Linked DNA regions of Homo sapiens: regions 1, 2, 3 and 5 are each linked to region 4. The links come from fine-mapping of genetic effects on gene expression. A gene starts in region 4. Each other region holds a variant in brackets. All regions are shown on one strand. Distances are between the middles of the regions.

Region 1 (4,172 bases), 66 kb after region 4:
TGATTCTTCTCCGTGTGACTCACCCTCAGTCCTTGGAGGGAGTCTTCTGGTTCCCTCTTCTTCTTCTTGTCTTCTCTAAGGCCTCCCAACTCCTTTGGCCACCTTCCCTCCTGTTTCTAAGACTCTCAATGTTCTCATCTCCCTCATCTAAAAAATGACACTCCTTTTTGTCGTTCCCCTCTTGGATTTCATTTTGGTCTTACCTTGACCTTCGTGCTGCCTCAGATGTAGCCTGACCCGCCATGGGATGACTGTGCCTTGGTCTGTCAGGGGCCAGGAGCAGTGGACCACGAGGTCTCAGCTTTTTGGCAGCTGTTTCACCCTCTTAAATTCCTAACATTTGTGCTGCACCAAAGCCTCCATGGTTTCTTCTTTTTGTTTCTTGTTTTGTTTTGTTTTTGAGACGAAGTCTTGCTCTGTCACCCAGGCTGGAGTGCAATGGCACGACCTCGGCTCACTGCAACCTCCACTTCCTGGGTTCAAGAGATTCTCCTGCCTCAGCCTCACAAGTAGCTGGGGTTACAGGCACCCACCACCATGCCTGGCTAATTTTTTTTGTATTTTTAGTAGAGACAGGGTTTCATCACGTTGACCAGGCTGGTTTTGAACTTCTGACCTCAAGTGATCTGCCCGCTTCGGCCTCCCAAAGTGCTAGGATTACAGGCGTGAGCCATCGCGCCCGGCCTCCATGGTTTCTTCAAAACAAGCTTCAGAAGGCTTTAGTGTTCCTTAATCTTATTAAGGATTTGCTAACCTTTGGGCCTAATACCTGTGTTTAGCCTCTAAACACCACTCATCATCAAAGAGAGATGAAGTCATCTTCACAGGGGGCCGGGAGGGCAGCGGGAAGTGGTGGTCTACCGTCACCGGCTTCAACTGTCACTATCAAGCCTAAGGCTGCTTCTAGTTATTTTTCTCCACTTTGAACTTTTTCTCTTCCTTCTTCACTTAGGTTAGATGAAAAGTGCAAAGATTTTGGGGTGAGTAGCTTGCGTATTAAGCTGCAATGCTGTCCCTCCTTGACAGCTGCCGTTGGAAACCCAGGAGCCCAGCAGGATGGGGCAGGGTTGAGCAGAGGGTGGTGGATGAGGATTTGTCTGCATGTTTTCCTGGGTAATGGTACCTTCAGTACTTCCTGACTCCATTTCTAGCAGCCGTGTACCTTTAATAAATTTCATTTTTACGTGTAAATGGGCTGTGCAGTTTATAAATAGCCACATTGAAATTTTACCCTTAAAGCAAATTGCTCCCTGGTCTAGCTAGTTCGAGAATCTATTTATGATCTGTGTCTGTGGTTGACAACGTTGCTCCCCTGGTCATTGTAGAAGCTTCCCCCCACCATATGCTGTATAGACACGTGCCTTGCCAAGGTGAGTTCAGTCTGTCTTTTGAAGTTTCCTGCAACTGAACCAAACGGAGGAGGATGCCGAGTAGAGCAGACCCCTCTTGCCCTGCCTTCACCTCTTTCCTGCCAGAAACCATTCGCCAAGTTTGTGGAGTCGTGGCGCTGGATGGGCTTGTGTGTTTGTACCTTCCTTTTTTCCAAAAAGGACATGAGATGGCTTGTAGTATAACAGTTTCAAAAATAAGTGAAGAGGTCTGGATGAAGGGCAAGAGTCGAATTGGTGCCCACGATGCATGCCGTGGGTCTTGTGTGCGTGGGAAGGAACCTGACGCTTGTTCCAAGCTTCCCCGCAGCCACCACAGAAAGAACCACAGTCACAGCCAGTTTATGACAGTGACTCAGAGCACGAGCTTTGAAG[C/T]GACGCAGACCTGGGCTCAAATTCAAACTCTGGCTCCCCTGCTTTGTAACCATGTGTGTTTGAGAGGCTCTTATCTGTGCCAAGCCTTAGTTTACTTTTCTGTAAAATGGGGCTAACAATATCTACCTTATAGGGTTCTAGAGAGGATTAAAGAGCGTAATATAAGAATTTGGCTGGGCATGGGGGCTCATGCCTGTAATTCCAGCAATTTGGGAGGCCAAGGTGGACAGATCACTTGAGGTCAGGAGTTTAAGACAAGCCTGGCCAACATGGTGAAATCCCATCCCCACTAAAAATGCAAAAATTAGCTAGGCATGGTGTCAGGTTCCTGTAATCCCAGTTATTCAGGAGGCTGAGGCAGGAGAATCACTTGAACCTGGGAGGCGGAGTTTGCAGTGAGCCAAGATTGTGCCACCACACTCTAGCCTGGTCAACAGAGTGCGACTCTGTCAAAAAAAAAAAAAAAAAAAAAAAAAAAAAAACACACAGTATCTAGAATCTAAAAAGTACTCAAAATGGCAGCTGCTATTGATACTAATAGAAACAAATGATAACACCCAGGAGATAAAACCAATGGTGGCATCCGGAGAAGCATGGCTCTTGGTGCCGTGAGCACTGAATGAGAGTTTCCTCCTGTCTTTGTGGGAACAGGGACACCGTGAGATGTAGTAACATGAAGACAGCTTCCTGGTCAGTCTTATCTCTCATCCCTCATAGACTCATCGTAAATCAGTAACCCCAGATGAAGCCATTTATTCATCCCAAACATTCACTGAGCGTCTGCCAGGTGTAGGGGGCACCAGGGATCAGATACAGTCCCTACCTTCAGGGAGCAGGGGGCAGGACAGGGCAGTGTTGTGTGGACAGAGCCGTGTTGGAGGAAGGGAGAGGCCCCGGGGGCAGCTCTCCCAGGCTGAGGGTGTGGGGTGGGCTGCCCAAGGGTCCAGACTGGGGAGGGGTGAGGAAGAAGCACTCAGGCAAGGAAGGCAGCCCTTGCAGAGGGAACAATGGGTGCAGGTGTTGTAACCCTTGGGTTCACAGTGATCAGGGAGCATCACTGGGTAGCTTCTTGAAGTCCTGGGCATGAAGGGAATGGGAGGAGAGATAGGAGAGGTGAGCAGGGCTGGGTCAAGGGCCTGTGGATGCTACACTGAGGAGTTTGCATCCCATACCAGCAGCTACTCAAGCAGTACTCCCCAACCTTGCTGCACAGAAGACTCTGCTGGGGAGCTTGAAAAATCCTGATACCCAGGTTGATACCATACACATTAAGTCACAATATCTGGGGCCGGGAGCCAGGCAGCTGTCCTTTTTGAAGACCCATGGGTGACTCCAGCATGCAGAAAAGTATGGGAACCACTCGGTGCTGTGCTGGCAAGCCAGTTTTATTGGGGTCAGACTGGGTGCAGGGAGCTTTGGTTTGTAGCATTTGTCCATTGCTGTGGTGTAAATTCTCCCATCGTGGCCACTTTCAACCTACGGCTCCACATCACTGAGCTCAGAGTTGGGACCAGCTGGGTGCACCGTCGGCTTGCAAGCCTGCAGGAGCTGGCTCCAGCACACACTGGACACTGCTAAAGGGCTGCAAGAGGTAGAGACACAATTAGACAGAAGTCTAGGCAGTGTTAGTTTGGAGGGGAAAGACACCAGATGGGAGGCCGTTGAGCTGAGATTTTTGGGTAACCTTAAGTCTGGTAGGAGTGGTGGGGTGCAGGGGAGAGGTGTGGAGGTGCTGTCTGCGATCCTTGGGCCTCTTGAGTGCTGATCGAGACTCTGCTGTGACTTCCACAGCCAGGAGTTCTCCAGACCCCGACTATCCTCATGGCTGTCTACCTAACCTCAGTCTCTGGTCTATAGGATTGAACTAATGACTTTAGGGGCCAGATAAGAGTAGCTGGCCCTTTGCCCAGAGGGGAGGAGGACGGGGTGGAGGAGAAGGGAAGCTACAAAATGCAGTGACAGTGGTGGACCCTGCCCTCAGCTGCAGCTCGTGCCTGTGGCTTCTGACACCCAGTGACCTCAGGACTAGGTGACACCAGAGAAGGTGGATGCTGGTCAGTGTTGGAGCAGGACAGAGGGGAGGAAGGATATGAGGCCCAAGGAACCCAGACAAAAGGGATGCACGGGGTGACGGAGGAAGGGTGAGCTCCGGAGAGAACATGAGGCCCAGCTCCCCTCCACTTTTGCCCAAGGCCTCACTGTGTTGCCTTTCCACCTGCCTAAAAGAAGCAGCTTAGGGTCATGACTCAGGGAGAGGCGGTTAGACAAGTCCAATAATACAACTTGTTTAGGGGATGGAGGGACCCAGCCTGAGGCCCTGAGCCCAGGGAAGCAGCTGTGGCAAGCTGAGCCTGGTCATGGTGTCCCTGAGGCTCTGCAGGTATGGACATGCCTCTGCTGGTATGCATG
Region 2 (4,172 bases), 97 kb after region 4:
AACCCCAGATGACACAAAAGTCATCCCAGACCTTAACCCCTAAGCTTTGGAAGTTGTGCTTTCAGGGAGCCTCTGCTTCTGGCCTCTTTTTTTCCCTTTTCTTTTCTTTTTTTTTTTTGAGACAGAGTTTCACTCTTGTTGCCTAGGCTGGAGTGCAATGGCGTGATCTTGGCTCACCACAACCTCCACCTCCTGGGTTCAAGCCATTCTCCTGCCTCAGCCTCCTGAGTGCTGGGATTACAGGCATGCACCACCATGCCCAGCTAATTTTGTATTTTTAGTAGAGACGGGGTTTCTCCATGTTGGTCAGGCTGGTCTTGAACTCCCAACCTCAGGTGATCTGCCCACCTCGGCCTCCCAAAGTGCTGGGATTACAGGCATAAGCCACTGCGCCTGGCCTCCTCTGGTCTCTTTCTAGAGACAGTGACCTGCAAATAGGTCTGCTCCTGGCTGCCCCTGCATCACAGCTCCCCCCCACACCCCCACCTCTTTTTTCTGGGTGGGGAAAGCGGGGAGCATGAGGTTGCCTCCCTCCCTGCCCCCCATGCTCCCCCTCATGTTCTTTATCCAGCCTATTTTGTTCAGCTACACTTTTACCTGCTTAAAGCCCTAATTCCAAATTGGACACGAGCAAGACACAGTAAAAATAAGTTAGTTTTTAAAAATCATTAGTTGTCAAGTATGTTTTGAACAACTGTTGATGCCCAGCTAGGAAGTGAAGTTTATTTAAAGTTAGAATATCTGTAACTAGTACATAAAAAAAAAAAAAAAAAAAAAAAAAAAAACCTAATTACACATTTTGGGAGAGCATAGCCAGGAAATTGCATCTGTGAAAAGAAAATACAAATTTTCCTCTAGATGAGTTTGTGAACGCCTGTGTGGCCCCAGCGCTCTGAGAGGTGGGGCCTAGAATGAGTCCGAGTGTTCTCAGCTCCTGCAGCTCTTACCATACCAATTGCTGCCAACCTTCTGGGATTCCTGGGTCCTGGAAACCCGGCAGCAACACTGTGTCTCAAGCCTACAGTGGGCATGCTGGCGAGGACTGCAGGCATGGTCATGACTGTTTTGAATAATTATATGCGAGGAATGTTTTTAACCAAAGGCCCCAAAGCATCCGAAGCCTGGCTTCAAGGTGGAGGAGTAAGGAGGATGAGTCTGGGACGTGGGGTGGTTCGTGGCGCAGACCTCTATTGTGGAAGTGTCATGATCGCATTCTTGGATATTGACTCGATTCTATATGGGTCTCTCGAATGGAACCCCTGCGAGTAGCTGGAGAACTCAACCTTCTAGACAGTGATCTAGATGTTGACACCAAAGTCAGACACACCTGGTCTCCTGGTGCCCTGCAGTATTATGGTCGTGCGGAGCTACAAGCGTCTGATCACAGGTGAGGTCCTGACTTCCATGGCGTTTTCTCCTGTGCTGGGCAAGGCAGCGTCTCCCTCTCCGCAGGAAAATGCATGCTGTCCCCATAAGGATGTGTGTGCGCATGGGGGTGCATTTTGTGTGCATACAATACACCAAAGAACAAAGAATGATGGAACAAATATCTGTGGACCCACCACCAAGAACTAATTAATCTTAGCATTTTGTCATTGCTCCATATCATAAATGACATCATTGATGAAAATTTCAAAGATGCAACCTACGTATTTTG[C/T]GGCTTTTATATTTTCTTAAATGATGTCGTTGTGCAACTTGCTTTTTTGTTACTATTTTTGAGATACAGTCGTGTTGATGTTATAGCTCTGGTGCATTCATTTGTAACTGCTGTCTAGTATCCCACTAAATATATCCATGGAACTTACAACTTATCCATTCACCTCTTGATGAATATTTTCTCCAGGATTTTATGATTACAAACACCATAGGGTTTTTAAATCTGGGATGCACAACCTTTTTTTTTTTTTTTTTTTTGAGAGAGAGTCTTGCTCTATTGCCCAGGCTGGATGGAGTACAGTGGTGTGATCTCAGCTCACTGCAACCTCCGCTTCCCAGATTCAAGCAATTCTCCTGCCTCAGCCTCCCAAGTAGCTGGGATTACAGGTGCACACCACCATGCCTGGCTAATTTTTGTGTTTTTAGTAGAGACGGGGTTTCACCATGTTGGCCAGGCTGGTCCCAAACTCCTGACCTCAGGTGATCCACCCACCTTGGCCTCTCAAAGTGTTGGGATTACAGGCGTGAGCCACCGCACCTGGCCCTAGGATGCAGGGCTTTTTAAATGCTCTGTGCATCATGCATTGAGGATAGAGTGGAGGCAGCAGAGGGAGCACCGTGGGCACCAGCACCTGTGCCCTGGGATTGCTGCAGAGGAAGACTCACCCTGCAGAATGTCTTTAAAGACAGAGGAGAGGATGGCATTTGAGGGTGTGAAGAAGGAAGAGTTTGATCTTCCCAAGGCTGCTGCCTAAACTCTCATGTCAGTTTCAACTTTTACAAGGAAAGAAATTAAGAAAAAGAAGGTAAGAACAGTTGGTCAACGAAAAAACCTTTTTTTTTTTTTTTTGAGACAGAGTCCTCCAGGCTGGAGTGCAGTGGCACAATCTTGGCTCATTGCAACCTCCACCCCCAGGGTATAAGTGATTTTCATGTCTCAGCCTCCCAAGTAGCTGGGATTACAGGCGTGCATCACCATGCCCGGCTGATTTTTGTATTTTTAGTAGAAACGGTTTTGCCATGTTAGCCAGGCTGGTCTCCAACTCCTGGCCTCCAGTGATGTGCCCGCCTCAGCCTCCCAAAGTACTGGGATTACAGCCACCATGCCCAGACTCTTTAGATAATTCTAAATTCTTTAGATACCTGTTGTTGCAAATACATACCTAGAAGTGAATCTTGAGGAATCTTCAGATATGTGACATCAAGGTTTGCTAGCTCAATGTATTTTGAAACCTTAATTTAACCAATATTTCTTGAGGGGCCCTTACATGCCAGGCCCTGTTGCTGGCCTGGAGAAAAGCAGTGAACAAAACAGATGAGACCATGTTATCATGGAATTTTCTGGACAGGACAAACAGACAATAAACAAACATGTGTGCTATGAAAGAAAAAAAGTAGTGGCAGGAGTCAGGCCAGAGTCGAGCTATTTTCAATCAGGCTGTGTAATTTTCGTAATATAGGATTTTCTGGAAATTTATAGAGTAATAACCATCCCTGTGTCAGAATTACTATAAGGATTGCATTATTTCCTGCTGGACTGTTTTCCTGTTTACATCATTGATTTTTACATTATTCCTAATGATTGCGTAGGGTATTATATGAAGGTATCATAACTGTTTCCCCATTAAGAAACAGAGCATTTTGGCCTGGCGCAGTGGCTCACGCCTTTATCCCAGCACTTTGGGAGGCTGAGGCAGGCGGATCACCTAAAGTCAGGAGTTCAAGACCAGCCTAGCCAACACAGCAAAACCCCATCTCTACCAAAAATACAAAAATTAGCTGGTCATGGTGGCATGCGCCTGTAATCCCAGCTACTTGGGAAGCTGAGGCAGGAGAATCACTTGAGCCCGGGAGGCGGAGGTTGCAGTGGGCTGAGATCGCGCCACTGCACTCCAGCCTGGACAACAGAGGGAGACTCTGACTCAAAATAAAAAAAAAAAAAAAAACGAGCATTTCCCTTTTTTTTTTTCCCTCCCATCAACAATGCTGTAAATGATCAACCTCATGCATTAAATCTTTGTCTGAATCCCTGGTCATTTCCTTAGAATAAAGTCCGAGAAGTGAGATTACTAGGTGAAAAGAGATGAACAATTTTGGAACTCTATGTAAAGTGCCAAGTAACCCTCTGAAAAGCTTGCACCCCTGGCAGAGTGCAGATGTCTGCTTCCCCACCTCCTTGGTGGTACTGAGGATTACCATGTCAAAAATCTTTGCTGATGGCTGGTTATTTTCCAAGTACTGGGATACATCTTTAAGGTGCCACACTTTATTTTCCCCCTCAAATCATCTTTAGATAAAAATGCCAAGGTGATACTAAGGTTAAGGAAAGATGAAGACTAAAACGCCAGAGCAGGGCAGCTAGCCTGCAAATCCACCTGCTGGTGGCCACATTCGCAGGTTGTTGGTGTTGACTGTTTACAAAGAGCCCTGGGGGACAGCAGCTGGGGACTGGGGGCTGGAGATGTGGACATCTGTCCCAGGCTAACTGGGGACTGGAGGCCGGGGGTGTGGACATC
Region 3 (4,172 bases), 79 kb after region 4:
ACCTTCTGGGAAGCAGAGGCGGAGAGGAGGTGCTCAACAGAGCCTTCAAGGTAAGGCCAGGCTGTCCTCTCCACAGCTGGGCTGGGCGGCAGGTGGCCATGGTGGAGCGTTGAGCCTGGAGGTGGCTCCTGCAGGGACTGGAGCTGACAGCCCAGCCCTCCTTCGTTTCCTGAGGCTTCCCCAGCATTCCGACCAGTGAACACGGCAGTGCTCAGTGACTCGGGCCCTGATACAGTGAGTGTAATTTCTTTTCTTTTTTTTTTTTTTTAAGACAGAGTTTGGCTCTTGTCGCTCAGGCTGGAGTGCAGTGGTGCAATCTCAGCTCACTGCAACCTCTGCCTCCCAGGTACAAGCGATTCTCCTCCCTCAGCCTCCCAAGTAGCTGGGATTACAGGCACTTGCCACCACGCCTGGCTAATTTTTGTATTTTTAGTAGAGACGGGGTTTCACCATGTTGTTCAGGTTGGTCAAGAACTCCTGACCTCAGGTGATCCACCCGCCTCGGCCTCCCAAAGTGCTGGGATTGCAGGCGTGAGCCACCGCGCCCGGCCTAGTGAGTGTAATTTCTGTGAGCTGATGGTTGGGAGAATTTGCTCAAAGTCAAAACAGAGCATCTCCTGTCCCCAGCCATGTGTCCCTTACCCTCCCTCCCCATGGGGCTTTGAGGGCTTCTGACCTCTCAAGGTACCCCTCTCAGTCCAGCCCAGGAGCAGGCAGGCCTCCCTTTCTGCCCTGGCTGGTCCTGGGTGAGTTCCCCCAGCCCCACAGGGCACCCGGCCTCAGGGCTCAGGAGCAGGAACTTCGGTGGCTTTCCCCTGCTTGCCGGCTGGCCTTCAAATTTCCCCCTCTTCCTCGGGCTTTCATGGCAGCTCCTGGACCTGCTGCTGCTGGGCTCCTGTGGGCTCCTTCAGACTTCCTTGGGGGGCTTTTCCTGGCGATCCTGGACAGATCCTGGGCAGGGTCACAGAGCCATGGGAGCAAGAGACTCCGCCCACCTGGCCAGGTTCCATCCCTGTGCATGGATCCCAGGCCTCCAGCCCCCGCCCCCTGCTCCCCAGGCGCAAGACGTTCCAGAATGAGCCAAGGGGGCTCCTGGTTCCTTTACCAGCCTCCATGTCCCCTGCCTAATAGAGAAAAACTCTCTCGTTGTTTAAAGCTCAAAGATATCCCTTACAGAGAGAGCTCGAAGTCGCCTCACTGGGGGTTAGGGCGATCTCTGAGCCTTTCCCTCTGCTTAGAAATGCCACATGCTCATGCTCAGAGCAGGCACTTCCTGGTTGCCAATTTTATTTGGCCAGACCTGCTTTTCCTGTTTGGTTTGTTGCTATTAGCAACGAGCTCCAGAAGTGTCTCCCTTCCCACCCATCTTGGCAGTGATGCTGGCTGCTAATTTGAAGGAAGAAGGGAAAAAGCTAAAAAATAAGAATAATAATAAGAACCCCAAGTCCTTTTCCCCTATGCCTTGAGTTGTGGCCCCTCCCATCAGTGGGTGAAGTGCCCGGCACTGGTGAGGGCGGGAGATGGCAGCCACCTCATGCGGAGAAGGGTGGGCTCCTGGCCAGGTAGGGAGGGGCACTCTAGCTGAAGACCTGGGTCATGGCCCTGCCTGGGGTGGCCCTCAGCCACCTCAGCTTGGCCCAGACCAAGGTTGGTGGCCC[A/G]GCAGCCTGCCCAGGGCCCAATGGCCATCAGTCCTGCTGGATGAAGCACTGGCTGTGGAATGCATGGCACTGAGCCACCAGGCACTGTTGGGCTCCTCCAGCTTCTTGCTCACAGCAAGACTTGCTTGATGATGGCAGCACTGCATTGATTTACACTCAGACCTATCACAGGCAGTCACGTTGAGTCAGATCAGATGACCCCCAAGTCCTTCTAGTCCTTCCAAGTCACTAGGACCTCTGGCTGGGCAGAGGCTGGACTGGCCTGACCTGAAGCCACAAGGGCATGAGTGCAGGGTGAGAGGCCTGGAAGCCGGGTGGCCTGGGTAGGCGGACAGTTTGTCCTTCATCACGGGGCTCTCTGGGGAGAAAGCCAGGGAGCTGCCAGGCCAGGGAAGCCTCATATGGAAGGGAGGGCTCTTAAGGGCATCCTGGTGCCATCAGCAGCCCCTTGACCTGCTTCCCATCTCTCCCCACCTTCACTCTGGCTCCCTGACCATCCTGAAGTAGCATCGGGATGTGGGACCCACCTGGGCCACTTCAGCTGGAGACTTGGTCTCTTCAGAGCATAACCACCAGAGGCTGGTGCGCGGCAGGATGGGGCCGGTTACTAGGGCAACGGGGAGCTGGATTATGAGCTCTGCAGCCTGCCACAGCACTGCTATCTCTGAGGGCCTGGGGCACCTGGGCCACCTGAAGAACAGAGCAGTCCTTCCTCACCTGTGCCCTCCAGAGAGCCCTGCAGGAGTATGATCTCTCCAGGAAGCCACACCTGCTCTGGCTTCTTTTGCTCAAGGGGGACCTTCTGCCCTTTCGCAGGCAAGACGCTCTTTGTGGGTTTTGTCCCCCCAGGGCCTTTGTCCTGTGCTTCCCTTTTGGGGTCAACTGCCTGGTCCACTGTGAGCTTCCAGCTAAAGCACGTCCTGCGGCGAGTCACCTTGGTTAGCCGCACGGGTCAAGCTCTGCAAGGAGCTTGCCCTCCTCGTCCTCCCTTCCCTCTGCTCCCCTCACCGCCCTCCCCTCCTCTTTTCAGAAGCTGCTCTGGGCTTCTTGCCACGCGGGCGACACGCCTATGATCAATTTTGACTTCCATCAGTTTGCCAAAGGTGGGAAGCTAGAGAAATTGGAGACCCTCTTGAGGCCACAGTTAAAGCTGCACTGGGAAGACTTCGATGTGTTCACAAAGGGGGAGAACGTCAGTCCACGGTGAGGCTCGCTGCGCACTGTGCCGCGTCTTCTGCTGGGGGGAAGCGTCAGTCCACGGTGAGGCTCGCTGCGTGCTGTGCCTTCTGCTGGGTGAGGCGGCAGAGGGGCCGTGCAGTCTAGGACATGTGCCCTATGAGGGGCAGCTTCCTTCCCTCCCCACTCAGTTACCCTTGTGGTTTCCTGGGTCATAAGCTTGGCGACGCCGGGAATCTTGGGTTCCAGCTTCTCATCTCCCTTCCCACAGTAGGAGACAGGCTTTTGAATTTCTCAAGGAGATGTTGAGTCATGGTTTTCTGGCAAAAGAAATGAACTAATAAAGGGGACTGCATTAAAACATGGAGCTCCACGCTGTGACGCAGGCCTGTGAGAGTGAGGGCCACAGTCGCGGTGGGATGGCTGGCATAGACTTAGATTGCTAGAGGAGACCAGGGTATGGACTTCCCTGTTCAGAGCAGAGGAGAAAAACGAAGTCCAGTTCCCTCAGGTCACATGCAGGGGGTCCTCATTATTTGCAGATTCCATATTGGCTTATTTACCTATTCCTTAAAACTGATTTGTAACCCCAAAATCAGTATGCAAAGCATTTTTGCTGGACAGAGTATTTAAATACTCTGGCCTCGTATTTAAACAAGTTTCCTTTTTAAGATTTAGTACCATGTTTTTCACATTTGTGGGGTCTTTGTTAGGGGCCCCCCTTTGTTCGGGGATCTCATGGTTTAGAATGGCCCCAAGCAGTGTGCCGAAGAGCTGTCTAGTACTTCTGAGCACAAGAAGGTGGTGATGTGCTTTATGGAGAAAATGCACGTTAAGATAAGCTTTGTCCCTATATGAGCTACAGTGCTGTCGGCCATGGTTCAGTGTTAATTAAGCAAATATATATATTCAATAAGGTGTCTTTATATGGAAACATACATAAAACAAGGTTGTATATTGATCAGTTGATAAAAATGTGACCAGAGGTTTGCAGGAACCTAACCCTATATTTCCCCTAGGAGCGATGGTTCTGTGTTCATGTCCAATTCAGTGTTCCTACAACTTTATAGAACATAATTGCTATAAATAACAAGGACCAGCTAAACGTAAAACGACCCAGCTGTGCAGGCTACTGAGTGTGTGTCCTGGGGTCTGCCTGCCTTTCCAGAAGTGCTGGGGATCCACTGGGATGGACACTGGGGTTTCTGGGGGGCTATTGATGAGGAGGTGAGGGGTTCCCTCTTAGAACATGTTTCCTCACACCTGTAATCCCAGCACTTTGGAAGGCTGAGGTGGGCGGATCACAAGGTCAGGAGTTCGAGACTAGCCTGGCCAATG
Region 4 (4,172 bases):
GAGTCTGAGACGTGCATTTTAACATTGTCTAAATCAGGGCAGAGATGACTATTGGTGGCATGTTCTAGTTTAATTGGAAGTTTTTTTTTTTTTCTCAGTGGTACATAAAATAGTGGTTCATTTTACAGTTGATGGTGACTTGGATTCTATAAGCTGTGAGGCTCAACTGCTGGTCCTGACTGCAGGAAAATTTCTAAAATAGGTATGGCATGCCACTGTGCAGGACTTTAGACTATATGATGCTAGTTAGGAAAGAGGAGAGAGAGATAAATGGAAGACTGGGTCCCCTCCCTAAGGCCTTACCACTCAATTTGCAAAACAGGGCTAAGAGAAAACATAAAAACACTTCTCAAGCAACATATGAGTAGGTGAGAACTGAAGTCTGTAAATCTGGGTGTTATATAAGCACTATTATCTGGGACCTCAGCATTCCAGGAAAGCTTCCTGGAAGAAGTGAGTTTCAGGTCAAAAAGTGGGCCAAAGGCTGATCTGCCTCACTGAATGGGCACACTGTTTTCATGAGGTAGTAATGTTTCCATCTACACAGAAAGAAGCTGCTCGGACAGCTGATGAGCATCATGCCTGGGATATTGAGCACATCATGCTTGACCTGGGCAGAGTTTGTGGGCAAGGAAAGGGGCTAAGGGTCAAGATAATCTCTGCTGGGGTTGTTCAAATTTATTACCCAACCATCACCTGAGAGGTTGTCCCCTGAGGATGGCTTGTCTGGTCATTACTGAATGTCTGCAGGGGCATGGCAGTGTTCTGCTTGGCTCTGGGGGCTCTGCCCTTTCTAGGACAAGTCCCAGAGACAAACAGCTTGGCCCAGTACAGCAGAATGGGGTGAGAGAGGAACTGAGTTCGTTTGCGGGCAGGATGGAAACAGCTGATGGAGGCTTCTCGGGCCATCCTCACGTACCCATCACAAGCGAAGGGAATTAAGCCGCCAAACCACCCCAAAGAGTGACTCCAACTCAGCCCTAAACACCCATACCCACCCCACCTCCCCTGCAGCTCTGACAGGCCAAGCCTGGGCGCTAGAACCCCGCGCCAGAAGGCCGGGCCACACACTCCAGCGTACACGCGCGGACACGTGCCGGTGTCCAGAGCCGGTGGGAGAGGCGCTGTCACCATCTGACAGGAGAGGAAGGTGGAGCGCAGAGAAGTCAGGGTCACGTGGTAAGTGGGGGTCGTGGTCTGGGGATCACGGCTCCAGGTCTCTTCGCGACAACGCACCGTTGACCCCCAACACCTCTCCCTGGCGGGGTCGGTGACCGCAACAGCCTCCGGGATAGAACGCTAGTGAAAGGTAACCTTTCTCCAGCCCGCTCCACGCGCTCCGCACCCGCTAAGCGCCTCCGCGAATTAACTCAGGCCTCCGCGCCGAAGTAGGCGCAGTTATGACCCCGCTTCCCCGCAGGGAGACCGAGGCACGCAGGGTCGAAAGGACTCGTCCAGGGTCGCAGGAGCCGACCACACAGGGAGGCGCAGCGCCCCCGGCGGGAACAGTCAGCGGGTCCAGCCTGGCGGACTCCCGGGCCGGGCTGCCCATATAAGGCTGCGGGCGGCCGGCATCGCAGCCAGGCTCCCGGGGTCGCCCCGCGCGGGGCATCCTCCTCCGCAGCGAGGAATGCGTGGCATCCGGGAGGCTCTTCCGCTCCACGCCCGCCTGCGGGGAGCCTCAGCCCCGGGGCGCGGCCTCGCGCAGCTGCCTGGCCGCTGGGGGGAGCGCGGGGCCGGGCGGGAGGCGGCGGCGCGCCCTCACCTGCCCCAGGCTGGGGAGGCGCGAGTGGGGAGGAGGAGGAAGGGGAGGAGGCCGGGGAGGAGCCTGGCGCGGCGGGAGCGGCGGCGCAAAGTGAAACTCTGGCAAGTTGCGGGCGCGCGGGGAGCTGTCGCGGGCAGCGCGCCCTCGGGAGGACGTGGCCCCGGCCCCCGCCCGCAGTGGGCCCGACCCTCATGGCCCTGAGCAAAGGGCTGCGGCTGCTGGGGCGCCTGGGGGCCGAGGGGGACTGTAGCGTGCTGCTGGAGGCGCGCGGCCGCGACGACTGCCTGCTGTTCGAGGCCGGCACGGTGGCCACGCTGGGTGAGTCCGGGCCGGGGGCAGCGACGCCCGGAGGAGAGGGCGCCCGCATTCGCCCAGCCTCGGGAAGACGGGTACCCCCCCTTCCCGAGGGGATCGGGCGGCGCTGGGACTGCCGGGGCGTAGGGGTCGCGCGCAGAGGGGTGGCTGTTTGAATGAAGTGGGGCTGGGGACTCGAGAGAGCACTCTGGCTGGGCCGGTGGCGCACGGAGGCCGGCCGCCCCTCCACGGGGATCTCCGGCCCGCGCCGCCAGAGGATATGGTTGCTGGATAGCCGGCTGGGGCGCTTTGCGTATTCATGAGGATCCCGGGGTGTTGACTTAGCCGGCCTGACCCTGTGCCTGGCGCCTTTTCTTTTGCACCTGTTGATGAAACCAGTGATTGCCCTTTGGTTTGTGTTGGCGGCTCCACTCCTGGAGGGGATGGGGACAAAAGCCCCAAAACATAGGCTCTGGAGAAACCGCTGATGGCAGCTTTGTCCCACGTAAATACTTGGTCGAGAAGCATCGGTGCTGCAATTTATAGAACTTGTAAACAAATATACCATGACCTTTATGCTGTCTTAGATCCTGCCAAGCCAGCGAATTTCACCTATGGACTTCAGAAGCCTTGAAACTGGCATTGTGCTATGGGCTTTAGTACGTGATCTCACTTAATTCTCACAATTCTACTAAAAAGCTATTATTATCCCCATTTTGCAGATGAGCAAACTGAGGCCTAAAGAGGCTAAGTTGCTTGCCAAGGTGACACCATCCACCTGACTTTTATGTGGCTGTTTCTGTAATGTCATTCAATGCGTGGCTTCCTGGTATCGCTAACCTGGGTCCCTTGTTTTGTGCTAACCATTATAAGGAAAACCTGGGTAGCACCAAAGCACGTGAAACCAGGTCTGATTGTTAGACTTCTAAATGTGGACACCCGAGAGTAAGCTCCCACCACTAGGCGTCCAGCTGTAACAGCTTGCCGGTATTCCTAGCTAAACAAGGTGCAGCCCGGGGTCACTCGTACTTGAGGTGGTCGGCAAATGCAGCAGGCTGCTTTGTAGATGCCTCTAGCCTTCTTTTCACATTTGTATGCATCGACTCCCGTTCGGATGTATGTCTTGGAAGGACTATCTCTCCTATTTCTGATTCCCTAATCATTTCATTAACATGCATTTATCCAGCTTGTTCTCAGTCACTTGATTACTGAAACAATGTCTCCAGTAGTCTCAGCATCAAAAGTAGGCAGTGAATTGTAGATTAAGTTATTTTCAGATTATTCTAATTTGTGCTGTCCTGAAGAGTCTAAGTTTGGTTATTTGGTGTGGCCTTGAAAGAAAACCACAGAAATTTCCATTCCATTTTAGATGTCTACTTCATACCACATTTATCGGAAGCGAAAGAGTAATTTCATGGTACAAAACTACTGTTTCATCAAATAGATTAAGATGTCCTTCAGTTGGATTACGGCAACATTAAGCCAAGTTCATACACATTCAAGAATTCTTTGAAGCAGCTTAGAAAAAAGAGATTTTATTTTTTCAAAAGTGAAGATTTAAAAATGATTAATGACAGTAATGTAGTGCATATTTTCCATTAGGAGCTGAAGTTTGGGCTGAGATTTACATCACGGTGGTGATTACAGTATACCAGATTTTAGAACAGAGAATGTAAGAAAGGAATTGGCTCGTCTTCAACTCATGTGCAGTCCACATTTGTCATTTAACCTAGCATTCATTTTTCAGTAGAAAACTTTAAAAAAAAATTTTTTTTTTTTTTGAAACAGAGGCTTCTTCTGTTGCCTAGGCTGGCATGCAGTGGCACAGTCACAGCCCACTGCAGCCTCAACTTCCCAGGCTCAAGCGATCCTCCTGCCTCAGCCTCCTGAGTAGCTGGGACTATAGGCACATGCCACCATGCCTGGCTAATTTTTTCTCTTTCTTTTCTTTTCTTTAAATGGGGTCTTACTATGTTGCCCATGCTGTTCTCGAACTCCTGGGCTCAGGTGATCTTTCCGCCTTGGTCTCCCAAAGCGTTGGGATTACAGGCATGAACTACTTACTGCGTCTGGCCTGAAAACTTAATTTTTTAAAGTCTGTTTTGTTTAAGTA
Region 5 (4,172 bases), 210 kb after region 4:
CACCCTCCCCCACCTACCCACCGCAATCCTTTCCACTTTGCCCTCTGGGACATAGTGAGATGGCAGCAGCAGGATGCCCTGTAGCCTCAGCCTCTTCTCTGAACTTTCCTTTTTCCTTCCCCCACCCACCTTTTCCTTTTTTGCTGTGACAAAACCTGACTTTGTCCTGAGCTCACTGCTTCTCCCACCACCTTATCAGGTGGTGCCTTTTTTCCTCTACAAAGGCACCCTCTTGTACCATTGGGTCAGGAAACAGGATCAGTACCTTGCTTATTATTGCCACTTCCAGAAATTCTCCCTCCCTCTTCCATAGAAACCCCCAGTTATCAATCCCAGATCATCAGAGTGGACTACCCACCAACCCTCCTCTTTATAATCATCTACAGACACCCCAATCTGTCCTGAAGGTTTTCCCTTGAAAAAACTATCTTCAGTAGCTCTTCTCTCAAATCCTTAGTGATGTTAGTATCCGTGTGGGTAGTCCTTTAGATACCCTGTTCTCCCAGTTCCCTGGCCTCCTCTTCCACTGAGCTTGTCCTCCACCTCATCACAGCCACTCATTCACATAGTTGTAGCTAGACCTATCCTTCCTTACCCTCGTGCCAGCTCTTCAGTCTCATTTCAGGCATCTGACTCTGACCACCACCTCCTCTTTCCAGTTCACTCCCTCTCATACCTCACTCCATCATTTCTTCAACTTCGCCAGACCTATGGTCTGTTGATATTCCCATCTGTTCAGAGTCCCACACCTCTTCCTAGCTTCCAGTCTACCTTTCTGGTCGTTGTAGCAAAATTTCTCAGTAAAGAGAAGACTTGGTTCTCTTCACTGTCTCTAATTTCTTTCCTCCCATATGAAACCCACTCCAGTCATGCTTTCCCTATTATGACTCCACCAAAACTGCTATTGCCAAGGTCCAGTGACTTTCTGAATCCAGGGATCAATTTTCAGCCCTTGCTATACCCTATAAGCCTTTGACAGAATTGATCACTCCCACTTCCTGAGTAGCCTTTGTTCACATCGCTTTCAGGACTCTTTGGGTTTTCTTTCTACCTCGGTGGTCACTTCTTACTCAGCTTCTTCACTCAGGGGCCAGTAGGCATCTCAAAATATAACATCAAAAACTAAACCTTTTTTTTTTTTAGTAGAGTCAGGGTCTCACTGTGCTGTCCAGGCTAGTCTCTAACTCCTGACCTCAAGCAGTCCTCCAGCCTAGGCCTCTCGAAGTGCTGGGATTACAGCATGAGCCACCATGCCCACCCTAAAACCAAACTTGATCTTACCTGCAGATCTTACACATTCCTCTTTATCTCAGTAAAAATCTCCTCCAGTCTTCCATTTGCTCAGATGAAAAATCTTGGAGTTTTCTTGTTCCTCTTTCTCAAAGCTCATGTCCAGTATTAGCAAATTATGTTGGTTTTATGTCAGTATATATCTAGAATTCAACCACTTCTCATCACCTCCACTATTACCACCTACATCAAAATCATCATCTCTTGCCTGGATGTCACCTCATGGGTCCCCTGCTTCCATCCTTGCCTCTGCCACTCCCAGTCTTTTCTCAACCCAGCAGCCAATATGATCCTTACAGTTAAAATTTAAGTCAGTTTGTAAGTTAAATCATGTCACTTGGTAAAACCCAAAGTCCCCCAAATCAGTTCTGAGGCTCATACTCATCTAGGGATAGAAGTAAATCCCGTGTTAGCATCAGTTAATACCTGTGCTTGTACTTAAATCTTATTTTTCTTGTTTTCAGTAAATTATAGTGACATCTTTTG[GATTAA/G]ATTGTTACCTTTACAATTGATATTGACATTTCTCAAGACACCAAAAGATTATATGAGATTTTTTTCTCAAGAATTGCAAAAATCTGTGGTGCAGCTTGACATTTTTATATTCATTTTTTGCTAAACACATTGTGTATTAGATCTAAAGAGTGTCCTTTGTCATGATTCAAGGTTTTTATGAAAGAGACATTTTGCTGTAAATCTGTACTGCCCGAGAAGAAATTGTATCCCTCTTTTCCCTTATGACTATCCTATTCTTTCCAAACCAAAAACCACAAGTTAATAAAATTGAATTTGGACCTCTTTCCTTGAATGCCTATTACAAGCCAAGCACTGTCCTTGACATTATCTCCTTTAATTTCCGTAAACAATTCTGTTATGTAGCCTCACTTTTGAGGTTGGGAACAGAGGCTCTGGGAGATTAAGTACCTATTCTATTCAAGGTCACACAAGTAAGTGATGAAGCTGGGGTTGAATCCAGGTATGACTCTTGATATACACCCTGCCTGACCAAAGTGACTGTTTAACTGGTTTTGTAAGTTAATTTGTCACTGGTAAAACATTGAACACCTACTGGTTCCTTAGATGTAATGGGCATAGACAAGGAAGAAATTCAGTGTTTAAATCAGTTAAGAAAGCTGTGATTCTAGGCCCTACTAACTACAAAGCTTTCAATATTCTTTTATTTTTTCCACTTAGTGACAAATTATTCTTTAAAAATCTTGCCATTGGCCTCTGCCTCTTCAACTTACACTAATAGTTCTTTTTTTTTTTTTTGAGACAGAGTCTCGCTCTGTCGCCCAGGCTGGAGTGCAGTGGCACGATCTCCGCTCACTGCAAGCTCTGCCTCCCAGGTTCACACCATTCTCCTGCCTCAGCCTCCCAAGTAGCTGGGACTACAGGCACCCGCCACCACACCCGGCTAATTTTTTGTATTTTTAGTAGAGACGGGGTTTCACCGTGTTAGCCAGGATGGTCTCGATCTCCTGACCTGGTGATCCACCCACCTCGGCCTCCCAAAGTGCTGGGATCACAGGTGTGAGCCATCGCACCCGGCCAACTTACACTAATAGTTCTAAAATGAAGCCATGTCTATAAATTGTTAACACTTGAGGCAGAGAGGAAGTGAGGGATTGAGTAACAGAACTTTAAAAATCATTCTAAAAATTCTACATGTTCACATTTAATTGCTCAAGTCTCTGTGATGTGATTTGACAACAAGCTGTCTTACAATCATGTGTTTGTCTTTACAGTGATCCTGCCATGAAGCAGTTTCTGCTGTACTTGGATGAGTCCAATGCCCTGGGGAAGAAGTTCATCATTCAAGACATTGATGACACTCACGTCTTTGTAATAGCAGAATTGGTTAATGTCCTCCAGGAGCGAGTGGGTGAATTAATGGACCAAAATGCTTTTTCCCTTACCCAGAAATGAAAATACTCAATATGGACCATTTAGGAATTATAAGCAGCAACTGTGAAAGACTTGCCACTCAATATCTTAGGTGACTGATTAGACATAGAGGGTTGTTTTAGGAGCATGCCACGGGAAAGACTGAGGGATCATGATCATTTGTTCAGAAAAAAAGCCCCTGAACTGATTTTGTTACCATAGAATTTAAAAAAAAAAAAAGCTTTAACAGTTGGCTGTAATTTGGCTTTTATTATCCTTTATTAAAATACAAATGTCAATGCTTTTCCTGCCTTTTTAATACCATGTCAGTGTAACATAGGTATTTATTTTGCTCATCCCTGTGATCTGTGCATTTTTGCTGCGTGGATGTGATTGTTTGGTTTCAGTTAGAAACGTCATAGATTTGCTGTTTGAATATGCCAAGGTGGGGACTTAGACATTATGTACGTCTCACAAATCCTACCTGCATACCAGTCAGCTCTATTGAGGAAGACAATGTAAAACTAATGTAAACTACAGTTTGCATTTCCCTGAAAACAGAATATTGTTTTTAAGAGGGTTAGAAACAACCAGTGGGAAAGGCACATGCTGCTTTGTTTAGTTTTTCCTTGTTCAAACTTTGTTGGTCACATTTTCCCATCTGTATTCTTTTTTATTAAGAAAACAGCTTAGGGAGGCTGAGGTGGGAGGATTGCTTGAGCCCAGGAGTCCGAGGTTGCTACAAAAACACCATTGCACTCTGGCCTGGACAACAGAGAGACCCTGCCTCAAAAAAAAAAAAAAAAAAAAAAAAAATTCTACTTGTACCTTATTCCCTATGAGAATACTTATCAAACTTATCTAAAAAAGAAAAATAGGAACAGCCATATGCAAAGTCAGCCCAACAGGAAAGGACATATTAGATTAAAATACATTGCGGCCTGGGCTTAGTGGCTCACACCTGTAATCCCAGCACTTTGGGAGGCTGAGGCAGGCAG

Direction of the effects. Alleles are on the strand shown, and positions count from the first base shown. SD is a standard deviation of normalised expression in the study named. Not every link is listed here.
In carriers of allele T in region 1, the expression in monocytes of the gene that starts at base 1,858 in region 4 tends to be higher than with C alone (moderate effect, 0.57 SD a copy in Quach 2016).

What was found. PIP is the estimated chance that this variant, and not a neighbour inherited with it, causes the effect.
Region 1: its variant is the best candidate, but not a certain one, in a credible set for the expression of SYNJ2 in monocytes (Quach 2016, PIP 0.56).
Region 2: its variant is the best candidate, but not a certain one, in a credible set for the expression of SYNJ2 in whole blood (INTERVAL, PIP 0.53).
Region 3: its variant is the best candidate, but not a certain one, in a credible set for the expression of SYNJ2 in whole blood (INTERVAL, PIP 0.56).
Region 5: its variant is the best candidate, but not a certain one, in a credible set for the expression of SYNJ2 in whole blood (TOPMed, PIP 0.57).

What each region holds. Positions count from the first base shown.
Region 1 is chr6:158,045,561-158,049,732 of GRCh38, forward strand. The region is part of intron 5 of SYNJ2 (synaptojanin 2); the gene reads left to right. Among named protein-coding and RNA genes, the nearest start is that of SYNJ2-IT1, 47 kb to the left of the region's middle. RefSeq lists an enhancer at 3,906-4,172. The variant C/T (reference allele first, on the strand shown) is at 1,764.
Region 2 is chr6:158,076,895-158,081,066 of GRCh38, forward strand. SYNJ2 (synaptojanin 2) reads left to right here. Exons shown (of 27, transcript NM_003898.4): 18 at 1,270-1,387. Among named protein-coding and RNA genes, the nearest start is that of SYNJ2-IT1, 78 kb to the left of the region's middle. The variant C/T (reference allele first, on the strand shown) is at 1,658.
Region 3 is chr6:158,059,304-158,063,475 of GRCh38, forward strand. It overlaps SYNJ2 (synaptojanin 2), which reads left to right. Exons shown (of 27, transcript NM_003898.4): 7 at 1-50; 8 at 2,689-2,861. Among named protein-coding and RNA genes, the nearest start is that of SYNJ2-IT1, 60 kb to the left of the region's middle. The variant A/G (reference allele first, on the strand shown) is at 1,659.
Region 4 is chr6:157,980,006-157,984,177 of GRCh38, forward strand. It overlaps SYNJ2 (synaptojanin 2), which reads left to right and starts at 1,858. Exons shown (of 27, transcript NM_003898.4): 1 at 1,858-2,083. The coding sequence starts at 1,957. RefSeq lists enhancers at 1,094-1,143, 1,108-1,623, 1,164-1,353, 1,374-1,423, 1,624-2,139 and a silencer at 1,544-2,123.
Region 5 is chr6:158,188,942-158,193,113 of GRCh38, forward strand. It overlaps GTF2H5 (general transcription factor IIH subunit 5), which reads left to right. Exons shown (of 3, transcript NM_207118.3): 3 at 3,036-4,172. The coding sequence ends at 3,216. Among named protein-coding and RNA genes, the nearest start is that of GTF2H5, 23 kb to the left of the region's middle. The variant GATTAA/G (reference allele first, on the strand shown) is at 1,777.